Linked DNA regions of Homo sapiens: region 2 is reported to be linked to region 1. Evidence: microRNA targets listed by miRTarBase, many of them from high-throughput screens and not tested one by one. Region 1 holds a microRNA gene; the other region holds the end of a gene's coding sequence.
What was found. The annotated mature microRNA hsa-miR-609 reads AGGGUGUUUCUCUCAUCUCU and lies in region 1 at 4,856-4,875, opposite strand. An mRNA with a match to its seed (bases 2 to 7 or 8) in the 3' UTR can be bound and repressed. Matches are read on the target gene's strand: a 7mer-m8 pairs with bases 2 to 8, a 7mer-A1 pairs with bases 2 to 7 and ends in A, and an 8mer does both.

Region 1 (7,123 bases):
AGCTCTCAGAGAACTTAATATTTTAAATAAATTAATTGGGAAACAAGTCATAGAGAATTCTTTTGAAATGCAAACAACCACTCCAAGGTAATCACGCATGTAGAAAGATGTTATAACAAGATAAGCTGAACGTATGTGTGTGTATGTGTGTGTATGCATATATATGTATGTATAAAGCCACTTAATTCATCAAATTGACCCAATCACATTACACGAATGCAAACAAAGACCACCATGTTGCTACTGTTGTAACAAAGGCTCCTACCTTGCTCTGAAACAATGCTCCTGGTTACTTCTTTCAATGGTCCACACGCTCACTGTACTTGGACTTGATAAGCACAGCTGGCGCCAGTTCATGGGGTTAAAAGACATTTGGTTCACATCCATTCCAGGCTGTGATTTCTTACACAAAATGATACTCGATTCCCAGTTCCTTAGAGAAAAATAGCATTTGATGAAAAAAAGTTCATTTGAATTTCATGTATTTAGAACATTTATCTATTTTTTAATTTACATAAATTGGGATATAATTTATGATACAATTTATATAATCAATGACCTTAATGTCAAATTTATAAATAATTATGCTTATCATTGTATTGTATCCTAAGAAAGCAAAAAAACTATGTTTTAAAAACACTATACTGTCATATGCTATACCAAGGCTATTTTATCTTCTTTAATAATTTTGCAATTTAACTCAGCCAAACCTAGAAAATGAAATATATCATCACATTTGCTACAAAACAAGTGTAAGTGCCTGAATCTGTAAGTACTACATGTGAGTACTCCATATGGATCTGGGGGTACTGTTCTCATCGATGCCAATTGATCATTTATTGAGTTTTTAAAATTAAAGTGGTGCCAGGCGCGGTGGCTCACGCCTGTAATCCCAGCACTTTGGGAGGCCAAAGCGGGTGGATCACGAGGTCAGGAGTTCAAGACCAGCCTGGCCAATATGGTGAAACCTGTCTCTACTAAAAATACAAAAATTAGCTGGGTATGGTGGCACACGCCTGTAATCCCAGCTACTTGGGAGGCTGAGGCAGGAGCATCGCTTGAACCTGGGAGGCGGAGGTTGCAGTGAGCCAAGATTGTGCCACTGCACTCCAGCCTGGGCAACAGAGCAAGACTCCATCTCAAAAATAAATAAATAAATAAATAAATAAATAAATAAATAAATAAAGTGGTGTATTTTAAAATGGATTTATTCATTTACCCATTTAAGAGAATATCCTGAACTCCTACCATGAACAAAGTCCCTTGCTAGATGAAGGAAAAGAAAAAAATTAAATGTGAGCTATGCCCTCAAATGAGGGGCCAGAACTCCATTCAGAGTTGTGATTAGGAAACTGGAGCTAATATTGATTGAGCTTAGCTTGCCTTTCACTCCCTCCTGCCCTCATCCTTCATTCCCTATCACAAATGCCCTGCCCAACACATCAACCACACTCTTGCTGGAATCTCTGGTTCCCTTGATCCTTTGACTTTTTGCATCAGGTACCTGGCAAAGACCGTCATCCCTGGATGGAGACAACTGAAAGCCTGGGCTGCTAGAGACATGGGAACAAAGACTACAGGACTGTGCATGGCAGTGACACCATAAACTTGTGGTTGCCACCCCCCACCAGACCCTCAATAGGATCTCCAATCCTGCTATGTTTCTCTGGCCAGTTCTCTCTCTCTCATTCTCTAAAATGGGCATTTAAAATATTCTCCCCTCTCCCGAAACCTCTAGCCCCTCTACTCCCTTCTCAATCTCAGTAAATGGCTTTGATTCCCATGAATAAAATAGAGGCCATCAGCTGAGAATTCTTGCTCTCAAGTATAACTACCCATTTGGGTCTGCATGGTTCTCTCCGCCTCCTCTCCCCTTACAATGGAAGGTGTGTCCTTCCTCCTACCTAAGGCCAATTCCACCACCTGTGCTCTGGGTCCCACAGTCTTGCCTTCTTAGGGACATTGGTTTACTCAGGATAACTGCATCTTCCAACTCTCCCTCTAGCCTGACTTCTTCCTGCCAACACACAAGTGCTCATCCATACCATCCTCAAAAGAAGCCTTCCCTCAGTCTTACCTTTCTATGTCTCTCCCCTCTCCTCAGAGTCAAACTTTTTGAGCAAGTTGTTCTAAAGTCACCGCCATGGCTTCCTCAGCTACACTTTCCTCATCCCAGGATACCTGCATCCTGTCACCACCATTCCATTGACATAGCTATATCCACAGATACCTGCCTTCATCCTAAATCCAAAAGGCACTTCTCAGTCATTGCCTAACTTTACCTCTGCAGAACTGGGCACTGTTCACCACAACCACCTTCTGGAATCACTCTTAGACTCTCTGTCACACACCTCTTATGGGACACCACAGATCCTCTCTATTGTGTCTGGGCCCTTGACCCCGTCTTCTGCCTCGCTGACTCAGTGGCTGTCCAACTGTGTGTGCACTTTGACTAACTTCATGTAGGCACACCCCACCTGTGCCTCGCCTCACACCCACTTCACACGCCCAGTGGCTTCACTGGGGCTTCACTGGGGCTCCTGGGGACAATCACGACAAACCTGAAAGTGTGAAGGAATTACCACCCTGTGCAGTGAAGCTTCAATCGATGGGATACAGGAGTTGGTGGATAAATTCTCATCTCCTCCTCTCCCCTTCCCCACCCACAGTCTGTCACTGCCTGAGGACTGTCCTGATTCATAGCAGTTCATAGAACCTCTCAGAAGACCACCTTCGAGATAGAGTAACCAGTTGCACTCGGTACCAAGTGGTGGCCAGCAAGGTAATACGCCCTCATACTGGCTCTCCTGCCCTGGGATCACACACCCTGCTAAAGATGGGATGCATGAGCTCTTGCCTCAGCCTCTGCTTTCCAAGGAACCAGGCTGAGGCACATTCTGGAACCCTCCCTGCCTAGTGTCCTTCCTCCTTTCATAGCTACTCCTATGAGTCTCCTAGGTGGGTCCCTTCCATTGATATTCCTCAAGGTTCCACCCTAGGCTCTTCTTGAGGTGTTCTTACTTACATTTCACACTTTGGCTATCCATTGACTTAATTATTCCCAAATGTTTATCTCCAGCCCTCTCTCCTGAGCACCAGTCCTGGATATCTGTGGCAAGGGCATGTGTCCCTCAGCATTTATTCTCCATTTCTCCCTCTGAGTAACAGAACCCCCTGAATATTAGCCAGGCACATATGGCCACTCACAATGAGGACCTAATATTACCTAGCCACCCTTGAAGCTGGCTGTGGCTTATGGCCGAGCCAGTCAATGAATGTTAGTGGCAGTCATGTGTGCACCTTCCAAGCCTTGCATTTTTTTCTTTCTTTCTTTTTCTTTTCTTTTCTTTCTTTCTTTCTTTTTCTTTCTTTTTGAAATATCATTACTTTAGTGTTCCAGGCATTTTAAATATTCATACAATTTCCTTATTTCAGCAGTCATTTCCTCTCCAGTATAGATTTTGTGTCCAGGATCAGAGCCATGTACATCACTGAATTTTCTCTACAGCACTCGCATGCTACATAGGACCCACTCCGGCACCCATGTCTTTGCTAGTAGAGCCTCTCACCACACCCGCAAGAGGGCTGGACCTTCCGTTGCTTGACATGGCCTCCACTGCGAATGAAAACACACTTTGTAGCTTCGATCCCGGTACATTTCCAGCACTCCCAGGTGTTCCATGTATGTGGCAATCATCCTGCAGAGCTAGTGATACATCAGGTCAGCTGGTACCTATGCCAGCACCTGCTCCACTGTATCATACAGATGCTGAGGCACTTAAGTGTTCTGGGTAAAATGGAGTTCATAATTGCCATAGGAGTTGAGTGTGGAGGAAGGGGACTTTCTCTCAATAATTAATACCCTTAATACAAATTTAGCAGATTTATAATTTCAGGTCTGTTTACATTTGTTGTCAAAGCTTCATAAACTATTTACATAAATGAAAGCATGTTCGAGTTTCTAAATGTTGCTATGACAAGCAAACAGAGAAACTGCTTAGACAACACTTGCTTGCGCCGTAAATACATATGGCAACACCTGGTCATTCTTAAAGAAATGCTTGTGTTTCCAAGGCCGGGCGCAGTGGCTCACGCCTGTAATCCCAGCACTTTGGGAGGCTGAGGCGGGCGGCTCATGAGGTCAGGAGATTGAGACCATCCTGGCTAACACGGTGAAACCCCGTCTCTACTAAAAATACAAAAAATTAGCTGGGCGTGGTGGCGGGTGCCTGTAGTCCCAGCTACTCGGGAGGCTGAGGCAGGAGAATGGCGTGAACCCGGGAGGCAGAGGTTGCAGTGAGCCGAGATCGCACCACTGCACTCCAGCTTGGGTGACAGAGTGAGACTGTGTCTCAAAAAAAAAAAAAAAAAAAAAAAGGAAAGAAATGCTTGTGTTTCCAAAAAGAATTTTTTTTCAAGTCATAAGCCTTATGCAATTCTTCCAAGGTAATAATGTGTTTGTCCTTCCTTCTCAAGCAGTGGTTCAAGGCATCTCAAGGCACATTGCTCTCTGAGGTTCTGATTTAACTGGCCGAGGGGAGAGGGGAAGAGTGGGCACTAACATTTTTTAAAAGCTTCACAAGTCATTCCAGCATGTAGTCAGTGTTGAGAACCTTGGTACTAAAGGCTCTTGCATCTTCCTACTGTCACTTGTCCTCACCAAAAGCCCTTGAGGTAGTCCCTGGGTCAGGCAATGATCTCTTTCATGCAAGCCCTGCATTTCAACAGAAGGTTTGTGCCCTTCCCCTCATCCTTTTCCCTCCCCATTGGCTCCCAAAATACACCGGTGGTTTAGGGTTCCTCTGCTGTTCCTAGGGTGTTGCCCTCATCTCTACTATTTAACCCATTATAGACCAGAGATGAGAGAAACACCCTAGGAACAGCCGAGCAGCATGACAGCGGGAGACTGGACGCTGACCCCGAGGAGCCACCACACCAACCACAGCTGCTCGTGCCCAGACAACTGCATGTGACAGAAGGAAACACATGTTGGTGATTTGGGTTTCTGTGACCACAAATGAACCTAAGTCCTAACTGATATATCAGCTGCCAACTAGACATCTCCGTTTGTTCATCTCAAGCACTCTCAGTTCAGTTTGTCCCCCAGCTCATCTTCCCCCATTGCCTCCCCTAAATTCCCTGCCCCCAAGCCCTCAGTATCTCTCTGAATAGCATCAGAGTGTCCCTAAGTTGCCCAAGTCACACGCAACTCTGGATATAACCCTAGACCCATCCCTCTTCCTCAGCACGACACCCAATATTTAGTCAGTTACAAGTCTCATGATGCTACCTCCTAAACACCTCCCAAATAGTTTCACTTCCCTCCATCCCTACTCCCACCCTAGTCCATGACACAGTCATCTCTCACCTGGACCACCACAGCCTCCTAATTGATGTTCATGCCTTGTTTCCTTCCAATATACCTTCCACAGTACGAAAGTATTGGAGATACTTTCATTGGAAATAATTGGCTGAAAGGAATCTTCTTAAATGCAGATATAATTGTGTCACTTCCCTGCTTAAAACCCTTTAGTAGCTCCCCACTGCCTTTAGGATAAAGAATTTGTCCATTAGCCTAGCTTATATGGAGTGTGAGTATCCTTCCCAGTATGCCTAGGAGAAACCCAGTTTAGGCTAAAGTGCCCTGCATTCATCAGCAACACCCTCTTTCACTCTCAAAAGCATCCTGATTTGGATGATAAACCACATGGTCACCTACATATAGGGCTGCTCATAAGCTCACCTCTGACTGTCCCTCCAAGCTTGCCTCTCTCATGGCAAATCTCTTGTTCCCGTTATCATGACCTTTTCATTGAAACCTGCTGTGCTTTTTCTACTTCATGGCCTTTGCACATGCCATTCCTCTGCCTAGGATGTTCTTTCTTCTCGTCACAAGGCTGATTCCTGTTCATCCTTTAGGTATTGCTATGGGTTGAACTGTGCCTCCCCCAAATTCCCGTGTTAATATCCTAACCCCCAGCACCTCAGAATGTGACCTTATTTGGAAATATGATCTTTACAGAGGGTAATCAAGTTAAAATGAAGTCATTAGGATGGGCCCTAATCCAATAAGTCTGGTGTTCTTATATAAAGGGAACATTTGGAGACAGACACACACAGGGAGAATGCCATGTGAAAATAAAAGCAGAGATCTGGGTGATGTGTCTGTAAGCCAAGGACTGCCAGCAAACAAGTGAGCAGAAGTTGGTGAGAGGCGCGGGGGCAGATTCTCTCTCACAGCCCTCAGTAGGAACCAACCCTGCTGAGACCTTGATCTCAGAATTCTAGTCTCCAGAACTGGGAGGCAATATACGCATGCTGTTTAAGCCACCCAGTCTGTGGTACTTTGCTATGGCAGGCCTAGCTAATTAATAGAAGTATCTGTTTAAACATTACCTCTCCTTCCAGGAAGCCTTCCCTGACCATTCCCCTCCACCAACAGACTATGTGAGATGCCCCTACTACAGGTTCCCATTGTGCCTTAGATCAATGAAAGCTATAAAAGAGCTTAGAAACCAAATGAGTTTAAAGCCCACTCAGCAACTCACCAACTATATAAGTTTAGGCAAGTAGCTATAAGAACAAAAAAAAAATGAAACTTGGAAAAAAGAAAAATTGTGTTGGCTTGATTTCTCATATCATGCTGGGAAGCATTTTCCAGCAAGCCTCCTCGAACAAAAACCAGACTTTGTACCTTGCTTTGCCCCATATCTGACACTCCTGGGGAATGTAACTTTGTTGTCATAATACATACTAACAGCCTCGATGTGATAAAGGCAGGCATGCTTTTACAGGTTAAACTCTAGAACATGTTCAATGCTATGATTGTATGCCCTGGTAGAACAGTTAAGTTTAAGGTCCTAAGGTTTTAGAGACCTCTGGAAAGATAATCATTCACATATCTAACCTAGAAATTTTATGTAACCACTACTTTTTCTAACTCTATATGAGTGAGCGTGTGTGTGTGTGTGTGTGTGTGTGTGTGTGTGTGTGTGTGTTTGAGACGGAGTCTCGCTCTGTCACCCAGGCTGGAGTGCAGTGGCATGACCTTGGCTCACTGCAACCTCTGCTTCCCAGGTTCAAGTGATTCTCCTGCCTCAGCCTCCTGAGTAGCTGGGATTAC
Region 2 (7,099 bases), not on the chromosome of region 1:
AGTCTCCTCTCAACCTCTCTTTTCCCCACCTTCCTCTCCCTACCCTACCTCTTCTGCCTTCTGGTTGTGGCTGGAAAATACTGGGGACTGTTAAGGTTTGAGCCTTGCTAAGTGCCTGGCGGCCTTTCCCACAGGTGGCAAATTACATCAAGGAGCAGTCGACTTGCAACTTCCAGGCCATCGTCATCTCTCTCAAGGAGGAGTTCTACACCAAGGCCGAGAGCCTCATTGGAGTCTATCCTGAGGTAGGGCGGGCCTGGCTCAGGAGCCAGTCCTACTCCCTGCCTGATTTCCCAGGGCAGGAAAGGAAGGCTGCAGTGGAGGGGAAAGGAGGTGGGGGAGCATAGGGAATCAGGTCCTGAATGGCCATTTGGGCTTGTTGGAGCCCTGCCTCTGGAGGCTTAGCCAGCCCAGCCAGGCAGGGCCATTGCATTTGGGGACAGGTGGAAAGGCAGGCAGAGGCAGCCAGACAGTGGAGAAAGGAGGAGAGTACAGAAGTAGGCAAGGAGCGAAGGCACATGGGACTGAGCATATCCTCTCACACCCAGAGAGAACCATTGACTGGGCTTTGGGCAGGTATGTAGGGAGGAGGGTTTGAGGCCCCTGGTCCTGGGGCACTAGACCCCTCTTAATTCTCTCCTTACAATTTTATTTTTCTTTTTCTCCCTCCTCCTTCAGCAAGGGGACTGTGTGATCAGCAAAGTCCTGACCTTCGACCTCACCAAGTACCCAGATGCCAACCCCAACCCCAATGAGCAGTAGCAGTATTTTTGCCCTCCCGCCCTGTCTGGATCCCTAAGCTGTCCCTCTCCCAATCTCTGGATATTTGACTCCCAACCTTCCCCCTACCTCCTGGCCCTTTTTGGTGTAGTCATGGGATTTAGGCACTGCTAATCAAGCATGAAGAGGAACAGAGGTGATGTTAGGTCTGGAGCAAAAATTCCTGAACGACAGGGAGTATTCTGGCCTCTGAAAGGAGGTGCTGAGCTGAACAGGGCCATCTGTTCATCACACACACCCCCTTCCTCCCCCTCATCACCCATAATCGTGGGCCCCTTGGGCCTCTTGCCCACTGTGTGTGTGGGTATGTATGTGTGTATGTATGTATCCGCATGTGTGCATGTGAGTATGTTTGCAAAATAATAAAGGATATTGGAGACCTGTTTTAGAAGGAGCCTAGGCTGAATTTGATTCCAAGAGAGCTTAGGATGACAGCACCCCTGAGCTGGGCAAAGGTACTCAGGACCTCATAGGAGTCTTAGGCAGTTACCTGAAACTGCCTTCATTCACTCATTTGTGTATTCATTCATTTATGTATTCATCAGACACATACCGAACACCCTCTATTTGTCAGGCTCTGTGCTTGGAATACAGAGTTGAATCAGACATGATCTCTACCCTCCTAGTAAGGAGATACAGTGGGTTCATGAATGACTATAGTTAGCTGAATGTCATATGTACTTTGAATTTGAGAAGTGGGTGATCCCCTCTAGGCTTCCTGGAGGTCACATTTAAGCTAGACCTTGACAAATTGGTAGGATTTGGTCAGGCACTAGGAGTGGAGCATGAGCTCTGGGGACAGACAGTTATGGGTTCTGGTCCCACTTTTTATCACTTACTAGTTGTTTGACCTTGGGCAAGTCATTTGACCTTCTGTGCCTCAGTTTCCTCATCTGTAAAATGGGGCTAACAATATTACCTACCTCATAGGATTTAATGATGTCAAGCTCCTCACTGGAGGCCTTATCCCTTCGTGGAGCCCACTAGGTGCCGACCCCTCAGAATATAACCCTCATGCCTGGACCCCTGAGAGCTTCTGATCCCAGCTATTAGGGACAGAAGAAGCCTCCAAATCTGGAAGGTGCTGAATGCCCTGCTGACTGGGAAAGTTTCAGGGCACTGATGGGGTCTACCTGGTAAGCGGAGGGCCTGAGGAAACCTGTAGCTTCAATCATGTCTGGTAACCGGGTGCCTGAGCCCCAATCTGGGTTGTGAGGAAATAGGGGAGAGGTATCCTGGGCCACATCCCAGCCTAACACCTGTGAGGTTCATTTTAGGAACTAACCTCATTAGCTATAAGGATCATGCAGAGGCAGCAAAGCCGGGTGCGATGAGCTCAGCCTTTACTCATTCACATACACCATCACACTTTAATTCCAATCTGTATATTGCTTTTTAAAAGTTAAGTCCATTCTAATTACCCAAATATGCATGAATTCATTCTCCTTTTGAGAAGTTAGATTGTTAAAGATAGTCTCATTCAGCTACCAACCACTCCTTGATCCTTCCCTTCTTAGTGGCTGTTGTTTGTTGTACTTCCGTTTAGACTTTGTTTTAATGCTTGTACGTACATATGTGAACTCATTGGAAATATTGTGTGTTTAATGCAAATGATATATTGAATTGTTTAGCAATTTGTTTTCTTTGCTTAACGATGTTTTTGAGATCTGTGCATGTTACTTAATGTAGCTCAATCCATCTTCTGTAATTGCTGTATAGATTGTCATCATATGATTACCACATTTTACTTACGCATTTCTTTTGTGATGGACATTAAGACTGTTTTTAGGTTTTGCTATTACAAAATACTACACAGGAGCATCACTATGCCTGTGTGAAAGTATATGTATGAAAGTTTACCTAGGGTTGATTCCTAGAAGTGGAATTGCAAAGTCATAGGATATTTATATATTGGTTTTTAATAATACTTCCAAATTGCCCTCCTGTACTATTTACTCAGTATTTTTCTTGAGGTTGATCTGAGGTCTAACATTGTTATCCTATATCATTTTCATCCCAAGTAGTGATATCTGTGAAATCACAGGTTTGATGTGTGCTAATTATGTATTCTTCTAATACATATTAAAAGACATAACTATCAAAACAAAATAAATTTGTCTGTTTTCAACCAAAGAAGTCACGTACCACTGGTGGTACTGTGTGCCATAATTTGGCAAATGCTGGCCTTTATGGACGAGCACAATTCGGGGGTCAGACCTGGTTCAAATTCTAGCTGTAGAAACTTGTGCAAGTTACTTCACCTCTGAGCCTAAGTTTCCACATCTGTAAAAGGAGATAATAAACACCTACCTTGCAGTAGTGAAGCAAAGAGAAAATTAAATATATATGAAGCAATTTGGCTGGCATCTAGATCATTCACAGCCCTTTAAAGGTCACCTTTGCTGTTCTCCCCACTTTACAGATAAGGAAACTGAGGCCCAAAAAGGTTTGAACCCAGGTCTTCCAAGTCATTCAAGTGCTTTCTCCACTGTACAGGTGGTTATCAACCTTGGCTGCGCATCAGAATCGTTTGTAAAGCTTTTTCTTTTTCCTTTTTAAAAAGTAAAGCAATATATACACAGGTAAAAAAATAAAATAGTACAGAAGGGCTTATAATGAGAAGCAGCAGTTCCCTGCTTGCACCCCCACATCCAAAGGATGTGGAGCTCTTTAAAAATAAATTGCTCTGGTCCCACCTCTGGAAATCTGATTCAGCCAGCATGGATAATAACCCAGATAACTAACCCCTACCTCACAGGATAAAAAGGATTACATGAGATGCCTTAGGCTAAGGCCCTGGCACACAGGAACACATGTGCTACAAAGGAGCTTTGGGGACTTAAGTCCTGAGGATCCAGGAGGTGAGGTGACTTGTCCAAGATTCCACTGGTTTAGTGGCAGAGCCTAGACTTCCACTCGGATCTATTTAGTGCTTGCCCCCTGCTCTCTCCTGTCGTGCCCCACCACCTCCTGGCATCACAGGGCAACCGTTGTCAAGGCTATGCTCACGGGAGGCTGGGCACCACAGTGTTTCCAAGAGCAAGCTGGATCCGAGTAGATTCCCTAGGGCTTGTTGGAGGAACTAGTTTGACTCCCTTATACTGTGGACGCAGTAGCCTTGCTGTAGGGAGTTGAAGAGTACTCCACAACAGTATCTTAAGTTTAACTGGGCACTTCCCTCTGGAAATCACAGTGTTGTGCACCAGGAACACAAAGATGAGTCAAATCTTTATCCTGCCTTTGAGGAGCTCACTGTTTAGTTGGGGAAACCATTTGTAAAACAGCCATTAACCATACAGTGTGATCAACACTGACAGGAGCACAGGAAAAACATCTAGCTTATGTGAAGATTCAGAGAAGGCATCCTGTAGTCTAGGTGGTGATACCTGAACTGAGTCTTGAGGGACGGGTAGGAATTAGCCAGTTGAGGAAGTAGAAGGAATTTCCAGATATTGGAAACAGTATGCATGAAGACATGAAGGCAAGAAACAGCAAAACAAATACTGAAGCATGAAGATTCCTGGGGTGGGGGGAAAGCAGCAAGAAAAGGTAGAGAGGAACCAGATTGGAAGAGGGTCGTAAATGCATGGCTACAGAATTCAGATTTGTTTTGTAGGACAGTGTGGTTCCCAAACTGGCTGTATACCACAAACAGGTACGGCATTCTGGGCCCCGGCCCCTAAAACATTCATTAAGTCTGGGGTGAAGATTTGGAATCTTGAATGCTTATAAAGGTTACCACATGACTAGGGTACAGCCAGATTTGGAAACCATAGCTTGAAGGCAGTGAGGGAGCCATGAAATGGTTTTTAATAGGGGGACTCCAGATCAGATGTGAACTTAACCTGTTTCTGGCTGGCTAGCCAACCAGCATGGAAAACAGATTAGGTTAGATGTTCATGCTGTATGTGCCCGTGCCTGTAGCTTCCCTGTTAATCAGCTTCTTACACTACTATATTTGCTTATTTTGTCTCTGAATAAGCTTTAGGCACCACAAGGGTGGGCCTGGGGATATTTTGCTTACCAGTATAGCCCCTGCAAAAAAGCACAGTGCCTGACACAAAACAGGCACCCAGTAAAGTTTTTGAATGAATGAATGCATGAGTGAATCCATTTGTGAGAGAGCGAATGGAGATGACAAGATTAGCTAGGAGACTGGAAAAAGACCAGGAGGCCTGCACTAGGGCAAAGGCCAGTAGGAATAGATTGGAGGTGTTAAGGTGTGAACTGTTAAGGTAAGATGATAACTTAATGACTGATTATTGGATGTGGAGGGTGACTGAGAGGATAGAATGAGTACCCATGAATAGCCATGATTCCTACCCTGTCCCAGTCATCTCTTTCCTTATCCATCTCTGAAACAATCTGCTTACATCCTCCTCAGCAACTGGAATTCCTCAAGTTAGTTAGACATTCTGTGTGCTGTGTGGTCTCTCACTGCCCCCCCACTCCCCACCCCTCCACAAGCCATTGATTCATTCATCCAGTTCAATAAATCTTGGCTAAGCACCTCCAGTGTGCAGTAAGGCTCTTCCAAGCCAGGACTCTGACTCCCTCTTTCCTACCTCAAGAGATGTTTTTGAGGGCTTTCCCAGGTAAGAGTCACATCTCTTATACAATAACTTATAGTGAGATACCCAGAATGTCAGACTTGTAAGGGAAGACTGCCCAAACCCCTTCTGAGGTCCTCAGAGGGGAATTAACTTCCTAAGGTCCGACTGCTAGGAAGTGTTGGAGCCAGAAATGGAAGCTAGGTTTCCTTTCTATGTCATCTCTGGAGTCTTGATCTTGATCTATCCCATTGTAGATCAGGACAGGCAGAGGTGGTCAGGGAGAAGGTGGGACTTAGGTTGAACCTTGAAGGTCAATGTATTGGACAGGTCAAACAAGATGGTTGCCAATTACACTGCCCCCTTCTGGAAACCCTTAGCAAACCTGCCATGCTTGCAGTCCCTTCTAAGGGGTTTCCTTAGCATAAGTTGCCATGCTCTGTACCATGTGACCTCACAATCCTGGCCACAGATAGCTAGATGTGGATAGTGTCTGGTTCAAGGGCAACCAATCTCTAGGCTGGCCAGTGGCCTGTTAGCTGGACTGGCATAAGGACTTCACCTTACAGGGGTGGCATGTATCAAATGGCAAATGTATGAAACAACCAGATCTTTCAGGGAGGCAGAATGTGAGCTATTCAGAAGAAGTGAACGTTAATTAGAATTTAATGAGGCATTAGTGGTGGTGGATGAGGGGTGGCCAGAAACTAAACAGCAAAAGCAAAGAGAAAGCTGCAGAAACCATAAGTAAGCAGAGGTCATGAGACATTTGTATAATGAGATCACGGAGCCACAGGGTGGCAGAAGCCATGAAGCAGCAAGGCAACAATGGGCTAGAAGCCATGAAGCAATAGGAGCCACGAGGAACAGAAACCGTGAGACAAAACTGACTATGAGATCCACAAAGCAGCAGAAGGCTTGAATAGATAAGATCATGAGACAGTAGAAGCGATGAGACTGCAAGAACCACAAGGTAGCCAGAACCATGTGGCAACATGGCAACAGGAATGGAAGAGGCAGCAGGAGCTACAATGCAGAAAAGCCATGGATTAATAGGAACTGAAGCGCCGGGAGCCATGAAGCTGCAGGACCCATGAGGCAGAAAAAGCCATGGGCTAGCATCGAGGGGGGCAGAAAGAAGTTAGTCAGTAGCAGTAGGAGGAGTATAAATACAGCCAGAAAGGAGTTGAGTCACCAATTTGGGAAGCACTAGAGAAGGGAGCAACAGATGCCTGCAGCTGAGGGGGTGACAAGATAAGCCAGGCTCTAGAGCTGCTTTGGATCATGAACCATTTTCAAGTTTCTGTTCTTCCATGAGGCTGCCTGTGTAGCTGTTCTTGTCTTCCTTATTTCCCTGTGAATGCTTTAATAAATCCCCATCACTAACCTGTGTGTGTCTTTGTTCCTTGGAATCTAAAAGGTTAACACTGGTGTGCAGTTTAGATAACAGGAAAGCAGGGCAAGAGGTCTTCCTGGTGGGGTTGAAGCAAGACACAGAGGTGGGAATTCACTCATCCTTTCCTGCCTCACTGGCATGGGCACCTTTCATTCACTTACTTATTTTTATCATTCATTCATCCACTCATTTATTTATTACCTTATATATGCACTAACTCACAACTTCACTCACTTATTCATTAATGCATTAATGTAAGCATTTACCAGTTCATTTGCTCTTTCCTGTATTCACTCATGCATCATTTTTCCATCCATTTGTTCAGCAGGCATATGTTAAATTCCTGTCATGTGTCAGGCCCTGTGCTAGGTTC

Region 2: miRTarBase lists SMC1A as a target of hsa-miR-609. Seed matches in the 3' UTR shown: 7mer-m8 at 1,336-1,342.

What each region holds. Positions count from the first base shown.
Region 1 is chr10:104,213,994-104,221,116 of GRCh38, forward strand. MIR609 (microRNA 609) reads right to left here and starts at 4,890; the gene lies at 4,796-4,890. It overlaps CFAP43 (cilia and flagella associated protein 43), which reads right to left. Exons shown (of 38, transcript NM_025145.7): 4 at 266-433.
Region 2 is chrX:53,373,766-53,380,864 of GRCh38, reverse strand. SMC1A (structural maintenance of chromosomes 1A) reads left to right here. Exons shown (of 25, transcript NM_006306.4): 24 at 135-245; 25 at 679-6,716. The coding sequence ends at 762. Among named protein-coding and RNA genes, the nearest start is that of MIR6857, 28 kb to the left of the region's middle.